Linked DNA regions of Homo sapiens. The protein of the gene in region 1 purifies or fractionates together with the protein of each later gene. This does not show direct contact. Each region holds a gene or a part of one and is shown on either strand. Other genes may lie near its edges.

Region 1 (3,500 bases):
TCACAATGAGGGATAAGTGGTCTACTTATGTGCCAAACACCTTGTTCTAGGCCATTCCCAATATTCCTGACTAGGTGCAACCTCCTGGTGATTCTGGTTTTACAGCTATGGGACTACACGATCACAAGAGCAAAGAAGCCCTCATGTATCTGAAGACTGAGGGGGCCTATAAACCTGAAACTGGCCCAAGGCAAATTAGAGCTCTCACCAGCCCAAAGAAAGCACCCAGAGGTCCAAACAGCTGGGAAAATTTGGGCAGAGGTGGCCCTCTCCAGAAAAGGTGGATTGCTGGACAGTACAACCACAGAGACAGAAGGAGAAAACAGATAGGAGCTTTACTCAAAATCACAAAGACACTATTTTTCATTGAGAACCAGTGTGAGAGTAGGAAAATTGGCAAATGGCCAGTTGCCCCCAGCAGCCCTGAAGAAATCAGGTAAATTCCGCTCCAGAGACGGCAGAGCTGGTGGCGCCATTCTTCAGGGCAGCACAGCCTTTTTCTGCTACACCTCACTCGGCCAGGGCAAAGTTTGTAGACTGCAGCCGCTCAGTCTCCTGGCAGATGTTCTGCTCCACTGTGTCACACTCGGCTAGGAATGCCTAGAAAATACACACGGGGCAGTAAGGGCCCATCCAGGGGTAGCCGACCACTGCCCACACAAGGCTCCTTGCTTACCCATTCTGGGGAACCCATGGCTGAGACTCAAAACAGATTGTGCATGAATGGAGATGGGCCACTGGCCTGGGTTCCAAGGTAAGGGGAGGGAGGGAGCATAGGACCAGCATTCTGACCATGCTCTAGGCCAGCAATCCCCTAAAAGGTGGTAAAGGCAGGGAGCTTTGCCTCAGGGCCACTGCACAGCAACTGCACAATCGCAGGAAGCACTGTGTGCATGAATACTGCCTCCTGGAATTGTGTAATGTGTCAGCCCTACCTGCTCTCCAGTGAGTTCCCTCCCTAAATAGTTTAAATTCAAATATAATTACAGGGACACAGGTGGCTCTTCTCTGACGTTTGGGGTTCCTGCTGATAAATATAACCAAAACAAGCCCATACCACACACCACGCTCCTACACTACCTGATTTTGAACAGATAAACACACATACCTACACATTAACATATTACACCTTGTCGTGCACTATTACACAACTCACCTGAACCTTTTTTACCAAGCCTTTCCTTTTCAATCTACTGTCTTTGAAATTTTCTGGCAGGATCTATGGAAGAGTAAGTTGATAATACAAGTTAGTAAATAGTAAACATGTAACAAATAATCCTCAGTGAAAATGACATGAGAGCACATAAGAAACACCCACAGTACACAAAACAGGTCACAGGTCACCAATGTAAATGTGATATCCATTTTCAGGAACCCTTTCCCTGGGTCTGTATCCTGTATGGCCTTTCCATGGCTCTTGTCCCTATAAAAGCTCCCTGTGTTCTCAATGTCTGGGCCATAGGAACTGATCTTTAACACAGACTTTGTTCTTTTATTGTTTCCTATGTATGGATACTCTGCCCTGGCCACACCATGGGCTCATTGTGACAGGAAAAGTGCCTGCTGCTGCTTCTTTACACCCACCCTGGCCAACAGAAGTACACAGTGCAGTTCACCTTCAAGAATGAAGCATCAGGCTAGAGATATCATTACTATCATCTGCAAAAGAGTTAATGATTTTCAATGGCCTCACATGACCTGGGTCTGGCTGAATCATCTATAAGTAATGAGCCCTGCAGAATTATCAGTCACATATTCATCAGAGAAAGTTAAATCCTCTGTTTCCTGGACCATGAGATCGTGGACTCCTTGGGTCCCAGCTTCATGACGATTACAGATGCTACTGGCAAACATAAGTGTAAATGATAAAAGTCCTATGCTGGAGGGCTGTGAGTGCCTAGAAAGCAGGAACTGTCTTATCATCATGCATTCACCCAGGACCTAGCAACATGACTGGCACACAATAGTAGATGCTTAATATTCTCAAGTGATGGGTTTGCTCAGGCAATAGGAGAGTAAATTACTGAAAGAGTGAATGTGACTGAAATAAAGTCAAAGAAAACTAGTTCTTCTCAGCTGAATATTTACTTACCAGTGTGTCAATCTCCTCCAAGATCTTCATAAACTGCTCTATTGTGGCTTTTACTCTCCTATCAAGTTTGCAGAGAGCTTCAGCTTGCAAATCCTTGGGCAGAAAACCCTGCGGGGAAATAATGCATTATTGCAAGGGTTCTCTGAGGCTGACGGAAGACTCCATGCCACAATACTAATGATGCAATCACACTGAGCCCACCATAGCCCTGGCAGGCCAGGCCACATCTCAGATCCACAACTTTAACTCTTGGAAAAATTAAAAAGGCTGGCCGTGGGCCAGTCCAAGAATTCTATCAGGTTGCAGTCTGCTCTACCTCGCATGACCCACTGTGGCTGCAAATGCCTCCTGAGGCTTGGCTCCAGTGAAGCCCCCAGTCACAAGAAGAGGCAGATGTTAAAAGCACAGGTTTAGAGTCTTCAAAGCCTACGCCTGAAAACTGACTGCCATTTACTAACTTGTGATCTTGAGCAAATTATTTAGCCTATTCATGCCTCAGTACCCTCATTTTAAAAATGAAGATTATGATGCCCACACCCTAGATGGTTACTGTGAGGTAAAGGGAATATATGTACATGTGTCACTAACTTGTGGCACAGACGCATGCTAAAGAATGGCAGCAGTGCTTATTTTTATCAAATTGTCTAATGGTTCACTCACACAGCTTGGCCTAATGACCAGTTAGCTGGTGACAAGAGTTGGATAGCAGGGATCTCTGAGGATGTTTATCACAGCCACGAGCTACAGACACAGATTTCACAACACGTAGCAAGAGCTTTAAACATCACCCAGCAATTCCAACTCAAAGAATTTATTCTACCAAAAAAACCAGGAATGGTCAAAAAAGATTTACGTCCAAGGACAGTCAAAGAAGCATTACACATAATGGTAAAAATAATATTAAATGAACAATACAGAGTTGGCTAGGTAAATAATACATTTATACAAGATGAAATGCATGCGAGCTTTGAAAAATACCATCACAGGAAAATGTTTAATTTTTTATCCAATAAAAGAATAGTTTATAAAGTGTAAATAACATTATATCAAATTTTTTTAAGATGAAAAATATATTTCAGGCTTTGGTAATCGTCATCTCTGAGTTGGTGCCCCATGGGTAATTTTTATTTTCCATATTAGTGCCTATACATGTACTTAAAACTTTTGTACAGTCAGCATGTATTCTGTAATTAAAACACAAACATATAGGCCGGGCGCAGTGGCTCATGCCTGTAATCCCAGCACTTTGGGAGGCCGAGGCGGGCAGATCACTTGAGGTCAGGAGTTTGAGACCAGTCTGGCCAACATGGTGAAACCCCATCTCTATTAAAAATACAAAAAAATCAGACAGATGTGGTGGCAGGCGGCACCTGTAATCCCAGCTACTCGGGAGGCTGAGGCAGGAGAA
Region 2 (3,500 bases), on another chromosome or scaffold:
GTATGTGATATTTTGAAAAGCAGAAAATAGTTATACTTACAAAAAACAGCTAAGAAAAAGCAGAATAAGGCGAGTGTCGTGGTGTGTGCCTACAGTTCCAGCTACTTGGGAGGCTGAGGGAGGAGATCACTTGAGCCCAGTGTTTGAGACCAGCCTGAGCAACACAGTGAGAGTCCACATCCCCAAAAAGCAAAATAAATCTAAAGGGAACAGGTAATTTCCCCACACATCTAATAATTCCACTATAAAATGCAAATAAAGTTTAACACCTGGGTTCTGCGCTCTGACCTCCAACAACATGATTTAGACTAAGTTATTTCATGCCTGTAGGTCCACTTTCTAAATAGAGATCACTGATAATTAAGTCCCAAAGATAATATGATAGCACGCTTCTGGGCATTAGACATCCAAAGATCTCATCCCACTGCCTCCCAAGGCCTCAACTTCTCCATTTGTAAATTAAAGATGGTTAACTTTTTAAGCCGATAGTTTCTATACTTTAAACTTTTTATTTATTTATTTTAGCATCTATAATAACATCTTAAGAGAGAACCGCAAAAGATAAAAGCAAAAAGTTTCCTGTGTTATCCACAGTAATCCTAAGGCAATAAAGAACATAAATATTTTCTGTTCAGTGGGCCTCACTGCAACCTCCGTCTCCTGGGTTCAAGCAATTCTCCCGCCTCAGCCCCCCGAGTAGCTGGGACTACAGGTGCGCACCACCACGCCCGGCTGACTTTTGTATTTTTAAGAGAGAAGAGGTTTCACCATGTTGGCCAGGCTGGTCTCAAACTACTGATCTGAGGTGATCTGCCTGCCTCGGCCTCCCAAAGTGCTAGGATTACAGGCATGAGCCACCGCACCCGACCTAGTGATTTTTAAATTAAGGGAACTTTCAAATTTAATGTTTTATGAATCTATGTATCAACAAGTTTAGAAAATCCAAAGTGTCCAATGGCAAAAAGAATCATACACAAAGTTAAAAGACAAAGGATAAATTTGAAGAAAACATTCCTTAATAAAGATTTCCTGGCAGGACGTGGTGGCTCACGACTATAATCCCAGCACTTTGGGAGGCCGAGGCCACTTTGGGAGGCCGAGGCGGGCGGATCACAAGGTCAGGAGATAGAGACCATCCTGGCTAACAGGGTGAAACCCTGCCTTTACTAACAATGCAAAAAATTTGCCGGGCGTGGTGGCACGCACCTGTAATCCCAGCTACTCGGGAGGCTGAGAGAATTGCTTGAACCCAGGAAGCAGAGGTTGCAGTGAACCCTGATCGTGCGACTGTACTGCAACCTGGGCAACAGAGCGAGGATACATCTCAAAAAAAAAAAAAAATTCCTATAAGAAAAAGATCAATAAGCCAATAGAAAATTTGCATAAACAGCCAGGAGCAGTGGCTCACGCCTGTAATCCAGAGCTTTGGGAGGCTGAGGCGGGTGGATCATGAGGTCAAGGAATCAAGACCATCCTGACTAACATGGTGAAACCCCATCTCTACTAAAAATATAAAAATTAGCTGGGCCTGGAGGTGCAAGCCTGTGGTCCCAGCAACTCGCGAGGCTGAGGCAGGAGAATCGCTTGAGCCCAGGAGGTGGAGGTTAAAGTGAGTCAAGATGGTGCCACTGCACTCCAGCCTGGTGGCAGAGCAAGAGTCCATCTCAAAAAAAAAAAGAAAAAAAAAAAGAAAAGATGTCCAGTATCACTTATAATTAACAAATATAAATTAAATCACAATCTAAACTTCTTTAACCTTTTTAACTATAAAATTCTACAAACATAAAATTACATCAAACATACAGCTTAACAAATAATTACAAAACAAACAATGATGACAATATAATTTAAGATATAGAATAGGCCAGGCGCAGTGGCTCACAACTGTAATTCCAGCACTTTGGGAGGCCAGGGCCAGCGGGCGAGCGAATCACAAGGTCAGGAGATTGAGACCATCCTGGCTAACATGGTGAAACCCCGTCTGTACCAAAGATACAAAAAATTATCACACGCCTGTAGTCCCAGCTACATGGGAGGCTGAGGCAGGAGAATCACTTGAACACGGGAGGCAGAGGTTGTGCCGAGGGAGCCGAGATTGCGCCACTGCACTCCAGCCTGGACAACAGAGCAAGATGCCATCTCAAAAAAAAAAAAAAAAAACAGCTACAGTATACTGGCCAGGCACAGTAGCTCACGCCTGTAATCCTAGCACTTTGGAAGGCCAAGGCGGGCAGATTACTTGAAGTCATGAGTTTTAGACCAGCCTGGCCAACATGGCACAACCATTTCTCTACTAAAAATACAAAAAATTGGTTGGGTGCGGTGGCTCACGCCTGTAATCCCAGCACTTTGGGAGGCCAAGGCGAGAGGATCATCCGAAGTCGGAAGTTCCAGACCAGCCTGACCAAAATGCAGAAACCCCATCTCTACTAAAAATGCAAAATTAGCCAAGCATGGAGGCACATGCCTGTAATCCCAGCTATTCAGGAGGCTGAGGCAGGAGAACTGCTTGAAGCTGGGAGGGAGAGGTTGTGCTGAGCTGAGATTGCACCATTGCGCTCCAGCCTGGGCAACAAGAGCGAAACTCCGTCTCAAAAAAAAAAAAAATTAGCTGGGCATGGTGGCACGCGCCTGTAATCCCAGCTACTTGGGAGGATGAGGCAGGAGAATCGCTTGAACCTGAGACAGAGGTGACAGTGAGCTGAGCCTGCGCTACTGCACTCCAGCCTGAGCAACAGAGCAAAACTCCAGGGAAAAAAAAAAAAAGAAAAGATATACAATACTGCCAGCATCCCAAAATGGTAATCTAATCTTGCTCTGTCACCTAGGATGGAGTGCAGTGGCACAATCTTGGCTCACTGTAACCTCTGCCTTCTCCTCGTGCCTCAGTCTCTGGAGTGGCTGGGATCACAGGGGCGCACCACCACACCAGCTATTTCTTTGTATTTAGTAGAGACAGGGTTTCACCATTTTGGCCAGGCTGGTCTTGAATTCCTGGGCTCAAGCAATCCACCCACCCTGGCCTCCCCAAGTGCTGGGATTACAGGCATGAGGCACCACACCGGATGCCAAATCAGGACTTTAATGTGGATGCCTAATGATCCTAATGGTCCCAATTTACACTCCTACCCATATTTAAGAGTTCCTGGTGCTTCACACGCATCCCAACATCTGGAGGTAGAGTGGCATCTCATTGTGGCTTTAATACACATTTCCCTAAAGACTAATGAGGTTGAACGCTTTTTTATTTGGTTGTTCATGGATATTATCTTTGGGAAACCTTTTTACTTTTCTTTTTTTGGGACAGTCTCACTTTGTCACCAAGGCTGGAGTGCGGTAGGACGATCTCGGCTCACTGCAACCTCTGCCGCCCAGGTTCAAACGATTCTCCTGCCTCAGCCTCCCGAGTAGCTGGGATTACAGACACCTGCCACCGCACCTGGCTAATTTTTGTATTTTTAGCAGAGACGGGGTTTCATCAAATTGGTCAGGCTGGTCTT
Region 3 (3,500 bases), on another chromosome or scaffold:
AGGGGGTGGGAAAGGACTGAGCCTCCCCCTCCCAGACCCAACAGGAAGGTGGGCTTTGGTGACCATTTCCTAGGCTGAGAGCTCCTTAGCTCCAGGAGAGGGCTGCGCTCCCTGGTTCTCCTGCTCTGTGGGCTGTGCTAGATGAAACCCACAAATTGCTGCTGTCCCGGGCGGAGTGGCATGCCTCCACCCACCAGTGAAGAATGAAGGCAGGGCAGTTGCAGGGCCCTGCAGGACTCTGAGATCCAGATGTGTACCCCAGTGCTCCCCTGCTCTGCCCACTGGCAAGAGGGGGCTGAGGAGGGGCATAGCAGGCCTCATGTGGACTCTGTTTCCACCTCCTTTCCCCCATATCTCTACTTGGCCCAGAGATGCCTGAGTAAGAGGGGCACCTAGTCATTCTGGGCCCAGAAAGAAGAAGCTAGGCATGTTGGCCTGCTCAAAGGAGCAGGAGCAGCCCTGGACAGGGACAGGTTAGAAAGCCTGGCTGCTTATCCAAGAGAAGAAAAGGCCCTGAGGGGCAGGAGCAACCCTTTGAACAATGCTGGACTGCTGTTGAGAAGGAAGGCTTGTGCCATGTGACCCATTGGTGAGAAATCAGGGCCTGTGCATGGAAGTTCCAGGGAGGGAGGCAACAAATCCAGTTGACATTGGTAAGTGTTTCCTGGCACCTGCAGGGAGCTTGGGCTGCTGTGTCCTGGGCTGAAGGGACTCTTTGAGATACCAGGTGTGGGCAGGGATCACATTTAAGGTGTCTTCCAGTCCAGAGAGGCCGGGTTTCCCAGAAGCTGGCTGCTCTGGGGCAGGAAGGAGAACTCTGGGCCAGCTGCCTGGAGGGCCACACACCGGGTCTCCTTTGCTTACTCCCAGGGTCATTTCATGCCTGCGACCTGGTTACTTTTCCTCGGCCTGTCTTTCTACCTTCTTCATTAGAACCTGCAGTTTCACCTTCAGCTAAGTCTACCTCTTAACAACCCTGTGAGAGGGTGGCTTTTTATTCGTTCTTTCTACCTCATTAGAAATAAAGGATTTAGGACCCAAATTGTGGGTAAGGGAGCTGAGTGGGGAAAAAGACAGGGCCACAGAGGTGCCTCCAAGCACAGACTTTGAGACAGATCTCAGCATTTCATTATGGGCCCATCCTAAGTTTGTGGGTTTCCATTCTCCTTCCACGTCTATGCTGGACCGTGAAGAGCAAAGTCTAGAGCTGTGCTATCCAATATAGTAGTTACCTGTGTCTGTTTACACTTAAATTAATTGAAATTAAATAGAATTAAAAGCTCTATTCCTTAGTCTCACTGGCCGCACTCCGTGGCCACATGTGACTAGTGGCCCCTGTCTTGAACAGTACAGACCGTTTCCGTCCTTGAAGGAAGTTCTGTTGGACAGTGCTGGGCTAGAGGTGGGAGAGCTGGAGGAGCCCCTGGTCTGCTGCGCCTGCCTCAGGACAGGCCACATGGGTACTGCCATGTGAATGCCAGCTACAGCGGCAGGCTCTGCTGTGATGGCAGGAGTGGGTGAAAGCAACTGGGCATGTGGGGGTCTTGTGGGGGCATTGGGGTGGCGGGGCAAGGCCCAGAAGTCCCTAACAATGCTGTGGCTGGTGCATGTGGGTTTTGGGAGAATGCGAGAGCAGGGTTGGAATGAGACCACCAACCTTGCAGAGGCAGCAGGGCTTACTGGGTTTGTCTTCTGCGGTACAGCCAAGGCCCCTGTCTGGAGTGGCCCCCTGGTTCTGCAGCTCGGCTCACCACAGGCCTCCTCTCACCCAGATGTTGAAAAGGCAGAAAAGTCAGGGTGGGCAAATCCATCCTGTGGTCGTTGGCAGCACAGTGATCCGGAAAGCTAGAAGAAGTGACGGAGTGACTGACTGCTTCCTGCGTCTGTCTCCCTGTTCTCTGAGGAGTCCTCTAACACCCTCCCCCTGCTTCAGCCCCATTCCTCAGCCCCGCTCACACGGTCGGGCCTTCTTTCAGGTGAAAGAACTTGTCCTGGACAACAGTCGGTCGAATGAAGGCAAACTCGAAGGCCTCACAGATGAATTTGAAGAACTGGAATTCTTAAGTACAATCAACGTAGGCCTCACCTCAATCGCAAACTTACCAAAGTTAAACAAACTTAAGAAGGTAAATAGAGTGGAGTCTGTGTGTGCTGGGAGGCGGGGGTGGGGAGTGGGAAGGGTTATTACCTATGTTTAGAAAGAGTAATTGAAGGGAAAGCCGGGTGCTTGCACCAACATGCCAGACAATTGCCTGAGACTGCTTTCCCTTCTTGCCCGTCTGGGGAAAGCCGGGCAGCTCTGAGCCGGTAGCCTTCATTTTAAAAGCTGTTTCTGCTTTTTCTTTCCCTGCCTTATTTAGCTTGAACTAAGCGATAACAGAGTCTCAGGGGGCCTGGAAGTATTGGCAGAAAAGTGTCCGAACCTCACGCATCTAAATTTAAGTGGCAACAAAATTAAAGACCTCAGCACAATAGAGCCACTGGTAAGTCATTCGGACCCTCCCCTCCCTGCAGGGGTAGGAGGTGGGAGGAATTGGCATCAGCAAATACTACTTTTGCATTTGTCCTTTTCCCACTTAATTTTTTTGACTCTCATGATGTGCTATGAGATAGAATTGAGCTATTGTTTCTGCTGAGTCCATAGAGAAACTGAGGCCCAGAGAAGTTAAATACCTTGACCAAGGTCACAGACAGAATGGGCAGCTATTGTACGGGTAGCGTAGAACCCTAGTTTCAATTTCTGGTCTCCTGCTTTTCCACTCAGTTTCTGCTCAGCTTTGGAAACCTGAGCTGTAATGTCTTCAGGTTCAGGGCATGGCTTGTTGCCCCTTTTTGGGAAGGGAGGAGCAATCCAAGAATTAAACTGGCCCTGGAGGTGGACTCCAGTTTTCTCCTTGGGTCGCTGGCCCCTGAACTGTGAGAAATGAGTCAGTCCTGACATAGAACCCTGGAATGACTGAGAGCCGTGTGGTGTGAGAGCCTCGTGCAGGCAGGCCTTCCTCAACGTGGTGTGGAGAAGAGTGACCCCTGGTCACCAGTCCTTGTTGCGATAGTGAACAGGCTCTCAGGGGCCTGGGTAGCATTTCTGGCTCCTCTGCTCATCCTTGTAGAGATAGACATCCCCTAAGCTTCACTGATTTACCAGCCAGAAAGGGGCAGGTCATGTTCAGAACAACACTTTCTATAATTACCAGGATCTGATTCGCTGTATTCCTTTGATTTTAAGGAAATCAGCTGTAAGATGTGTCACTGAAAACAACTCTTTTGGAATAGGAAATACTACCACATGAAGTAAATACACCTGTTGTGAATATACATATAAGAGTCACCTCATAAGGCCGGGCGTGGTATCTCACACCTTTAATCCCAGCACTTTGAGAGGGCAAGGCAGGTGGATCACCTGAGGTCAAGAGTTTGAGACCAGCCTGGCCAACATGGTGACACCCCATCTGTACTAAAAATACAAAAATTAGCCCGGCGTGGTGGCACACGCCTGTAGT
Region 4 (3,500 bases), about 88 Mb from region 1:
TTGTCATTTTCATTTTCCAGATAAGGTAGATGAAACTTAGAGGAGTTAAGAAAATTTCTAAGGTCATACAAATTATGGCAGCTGCTACTCAAGTCCAGGTCCTTTGATTCCAGTTTTATAACTTTGCCTTATATATGCTGTGTTGCGTGTAATTATGTGTTCTAGGCCTGTCACTGGTTCTCTGACTACATGCTTATTTTTGTATTGGTTTAGGTTGGTAGAGGTCATAGTGTATGAGAGCATACTTTAAAAAAATCTCATTTTTCACTTCATATCCATTAGGATGGCTATTACTTTAAAAAAAAACCCATAAAATAATAAGTGTTAGGATGTGGAGAAATTGTAACCCTTGTACATTTTATATTTCCTTCATCCAGCAGCTCCACTTTCAGGTATATACCAAAAAAAATTGAAAGCAGAGACTCAAACAAATGTTTGTACAGTCATGTTCATAGCAGCGTTATTCACAATAACCAAAAAAAGGTGCAAGCAACCCAATGTTCATTGATAGATGAATCAATAAACAAAATGTGGTATATACATACAATTGAATATTACTCAGCCTTTAAAAAGAATGAGATTCTGGCACATGCTACAGCATGGAGGAAGCCTGCGCCACTGATAACATTATGCTAAGTGAAGTAAGCCAAACACATAAGGACAGATATTGTATGATTCCACTTAGATGAGATGCCTAAAAGAGTCCAGTTCACAGGAGGTAGAATAGTGGTTGGCAGGGGATGAGGGTAGAGAAGAAAGGGAATTATTGTTTGATGGATACAGAGTTTCAGTTTGGGTTGATGAAAAAGTTCTAGAGATGGATGGTTATGATGGTTGCCCAACAGTGTGAATGTACTTAATAGCACTGAACTATACACTAAAAATGGTTAAAATGGTAAATTTTATGTTGTGTATATTTTACCATAATAAAGAAGAATCTCACTGTTATCCTTCAAAGGAACTCGCTTTGAACGCTTGCTTATGAGAATAGGACATCAATCAAAGAATGCCCCAGTGGAGCTAAAAATTAGATGTTTGGATGCAATTTCATCTCTTCTGTACTTACCAGTAAGTAGGTAGGGAAATAATGAAGGACAGTGGGATATGTTTGGGAGAATAAATCTGTATGAATCAACATGATAAATGTGATGAAGTAAATACAAGAAGATAACCCTCATTATATGACTAGTGACATTTTTAATTTAAAATGGAATCATAGAGTGTTAGAACTGAAGAGACTCTAGAGACTGCTTAATCAACCACATTCAAAGAAAACTGGGAAAGGTCTGGGCTGGATTTGAGAAAGAGTCCTCCAGACTTAGCCAGTTTCACACAACAAATTAATGACAGAGTGCCATCAGCACTCAGGTGTCTGACTTCTAAATAAGTGCTTTTCTCCAGATCAGTTAACTTTTGATGAGATTTTCCTTTTCTTTCCTGTAGCCTGAGCAGCAGACTGATGACCTTCTGAGGATGACAGAATCCTGGTTTTCTTCTTTATCTCGGGATCCACTGGAGCTCTTCCGTGGCATTAGTAGTCAGCCCTTCCCTGAACTACACTGTGCTGCCTTAAAAGTGTTTACGGTAGGTATTCACTTCCATAGGTCCTTCTGGGACCCTGCCAGCTCAACACTTGAGTACTTAACAGTGAGCCAGAGCCTGTGCCATCTCTGGGGATGCACAAGTGCATAGTATAGTTTCTACCTTCTGCTACCTTAGAGACTAAGTAAGGAGACAGATGTGTAAACAGATTGTTTCAGTAAAAGATATTAGGTGCTGTTTGAGGTTTGAACAGGATGCTATGGGATCACACAGTTAATTCCAGACTTTTTATCTGCCATCCTCTATTAACCTAGCCCTGGTCTTCCTAATCCTTATTTCCCGTGCAGAAAATAAGGCTTCTGGCACCTAATGCTCCAGTGGTACCAAACTGTTTGTTTTGTGTCTCTGGACCTTTGCTGGGGTCTCCGTATCTAACACTCTTCCTTAACTTTGCTTCTTAACCTCTTACTCACTCGTCAAGGACTAACTCCTTGTCTTCAGCACACTTTGCCCAGATTGACAAGGTTGAGTTAAACAATGTTGGTTCTCATATGTTGCATTTATTTATTCAGCAAATATTTGTTGAGTTTCCGTTTTTGCTCAGTGAAGGGCATACAACAGTGAAGAAAATATATAAAGACCTTCCTTTCATGTAGTTTCCTGTCTATTGAAGGAGCCAGGCAGTAAATATAATTGTACAGTTACTTATATAATTACAGCTGTGGTAAGGATTATACCTTTGTGTTCTATTTGTTATATTATTTTGCAAATGTTTATTTATCGACTTGTCTTACCTATTAAGTAGAGTTGGCTGAGAGCAGGAAGCATATCTGATTTATCTTTGTAGCCCCAGCATAGCAAGATAGTAATCGCTTTAGTAATCATATCAATAATGGGATCTCAGACAGCATACATGGCCTAGACTGGGAGGGAATAAGGAAAATGGCAGGGACAAAAGAGGGAAGGCTTCCTGAGGATGCGATACAGGATCTGGGTCTTGAAGGATACAGGTATTCCTATAATCTTCAGAAACATTTTTTTTTTTGAGACAGAGTCTCGCTCTGTCGCCCAGGCTGGAATGCAGTGGCGTGATCTTGGCTCACTGCAAGCACCACCTCCCGGGTTCACGCCATTCTCCTGCCTCAGCCTCCCGAGCAGCTAGCCTACGGGCGCCCACCACCATGCCCGACTAATTTCTTTTTGTATTTCTAGTAGAGACGGGGTTTCACTGTGTTAGCCAGGATGGTCTCGATCTCCTGACCTTGTGATCCGCCCGCCTCGGCCTCCCAGAGTGCTGGGATTACAGGCGTGAGCCACCGCGCCTAGCCAGAAACATTTCTTTAAGACTGCTTCACCCTTGTAAATGGTCATTGTATGAGATGGCCATTTTGGATCCTGCTTAGTATTTTCATTATTAGTTTATTTTGGTTTTGCTCTTCTACCTTATCCTGTGCTTAGCTGGTTCCATTGTAGAAATAATTTTCTATTTACTGGTTGGGATAACTATTTTTATTTCTGCCTACTTTCATGCTTGGTTGTGAAGCAGGCCAAAGTTTCTCAAACATTAATCTTAGGAATCTTATTAAAATGTAGATTCTAATTCAGTAGTTGTGGGGCAGAGCCTGGGATCCTGAAAGTCTAACAAGCTCGCAGGTGTTGCTGATGCTACTTGTCTGTGGAACACATTTTGAGAGGAAAAAACTAGGCCATAAACTTGTTACTTCTTTTTCATTAAAACGTAATAGGTTTTGAAAAACTTAATCTTAAAATTTGGAAAAGACTTAGAAGTAGAATTTTTTAAAATCACAGAAAGTTCTACCTTTTGGTGTATTTCCTTTTAGTTTTTGTATTAGTGTGTGTTTATTTTTGGTGAAATATTTCAAATATAGTTGTATCTTGCTACCTCTGCCCAGTCCTATTCCCCTTCCTCTGTTCTTAGATAAAATCACTATCACAAA

What was found.
Region 2: the proteins of BAG1 (region 1) and CCDC117 purify together in Homo sapiens (affinity purification with mass spectrometry; 2 studies listed by BioGRID and IntAct, with this or other methods). This does not show direct contact.
Region 3: the proteins of BAG1 (region 1) and ANP32A purify together in Homo sapiens (affinity purification with mass spectrometry; 2 studies listed by BioGRID, with this or other methods). This does not show direct contact.
Region 4: the proteins of BAG1 (region 1) and PSMD5 purify together in Homo sapiens (affinity purification with mass spectrometry; 2 studies listed by BioGRID and IntAct, with this or other methods). This does not show direct contact.

What each region holds. Positions count from the first base shown.
Region 1 is NC_000009.12:33,254,709-33,258,208, forward strand, and holds part of BAG1 (BAG family molecular chaperone regulator 1), read right to left. Parts: intron 2,201-3,500; coding exon 2,093-2,200; intron 1,220-2,092; coding exon 1,157-1,219; intron 601-1,156; coding exon 511-600; 3' UTR 1-510. UniProt on the Homo sapiens protein: Co-chaperone for HSP70 and HSC70 chaperone proteins. Acts as a nucleotide-exchange factor (NEF) promoting the release of ADP from the HSP70 and HSC70 proteins thereby triggering client/substrate protein release.
Region 2 is NC_000022.11:28,775,695-28,779,194, reverse strand, and holds part of CCDC117 (coiled-coil domain-containing protein 117), read right to left. Parts: intron 1-3,500. UniProt on the Homo sapiens protein: Facilitates DNA repair, cell cycle progression, and cell proliferation through its interaction with CIAO2B.
Region 3 is NC_000015.10:68,786,396-68,789,895, reverse strand, and holds part of ANP32A (acidic leucine-rich nuclear phosphoprotein 32 family member A), read left to right. Parts: intron 1-1,976; coding exon 1,977-2,126; intron 2,127-2,360; coding exon 2,361-2,483; intron 2,484-3,500. UniProt on the Homo sapiens protein: Multifunctional protein that is involved in the regulation of many processes including tumor suppression, apoptosis, cell cycle progression or transcription. Promotes apoptosis by favouring the activation of caspase-9/CASP9 and allowing apoptosome formation.
Region 4 is NC_000009.12:120,818,923-120,822,422, reverse strand, and holds part of PSMD5 (26S proteasome non-ATPase regulatory subunit 5), read left to right. Parts: intron 1-958; coding exon 959-1,068; intron 1,069-1,443; coding exon 1,444-1,584; intron 1,585-3,500. UniProt on the Homo sapiens protein: Acts as a chaperone during the assembly of the 26S proteasome, specifically of the base subcomplex of the PA700/19S regulatory complex (RC).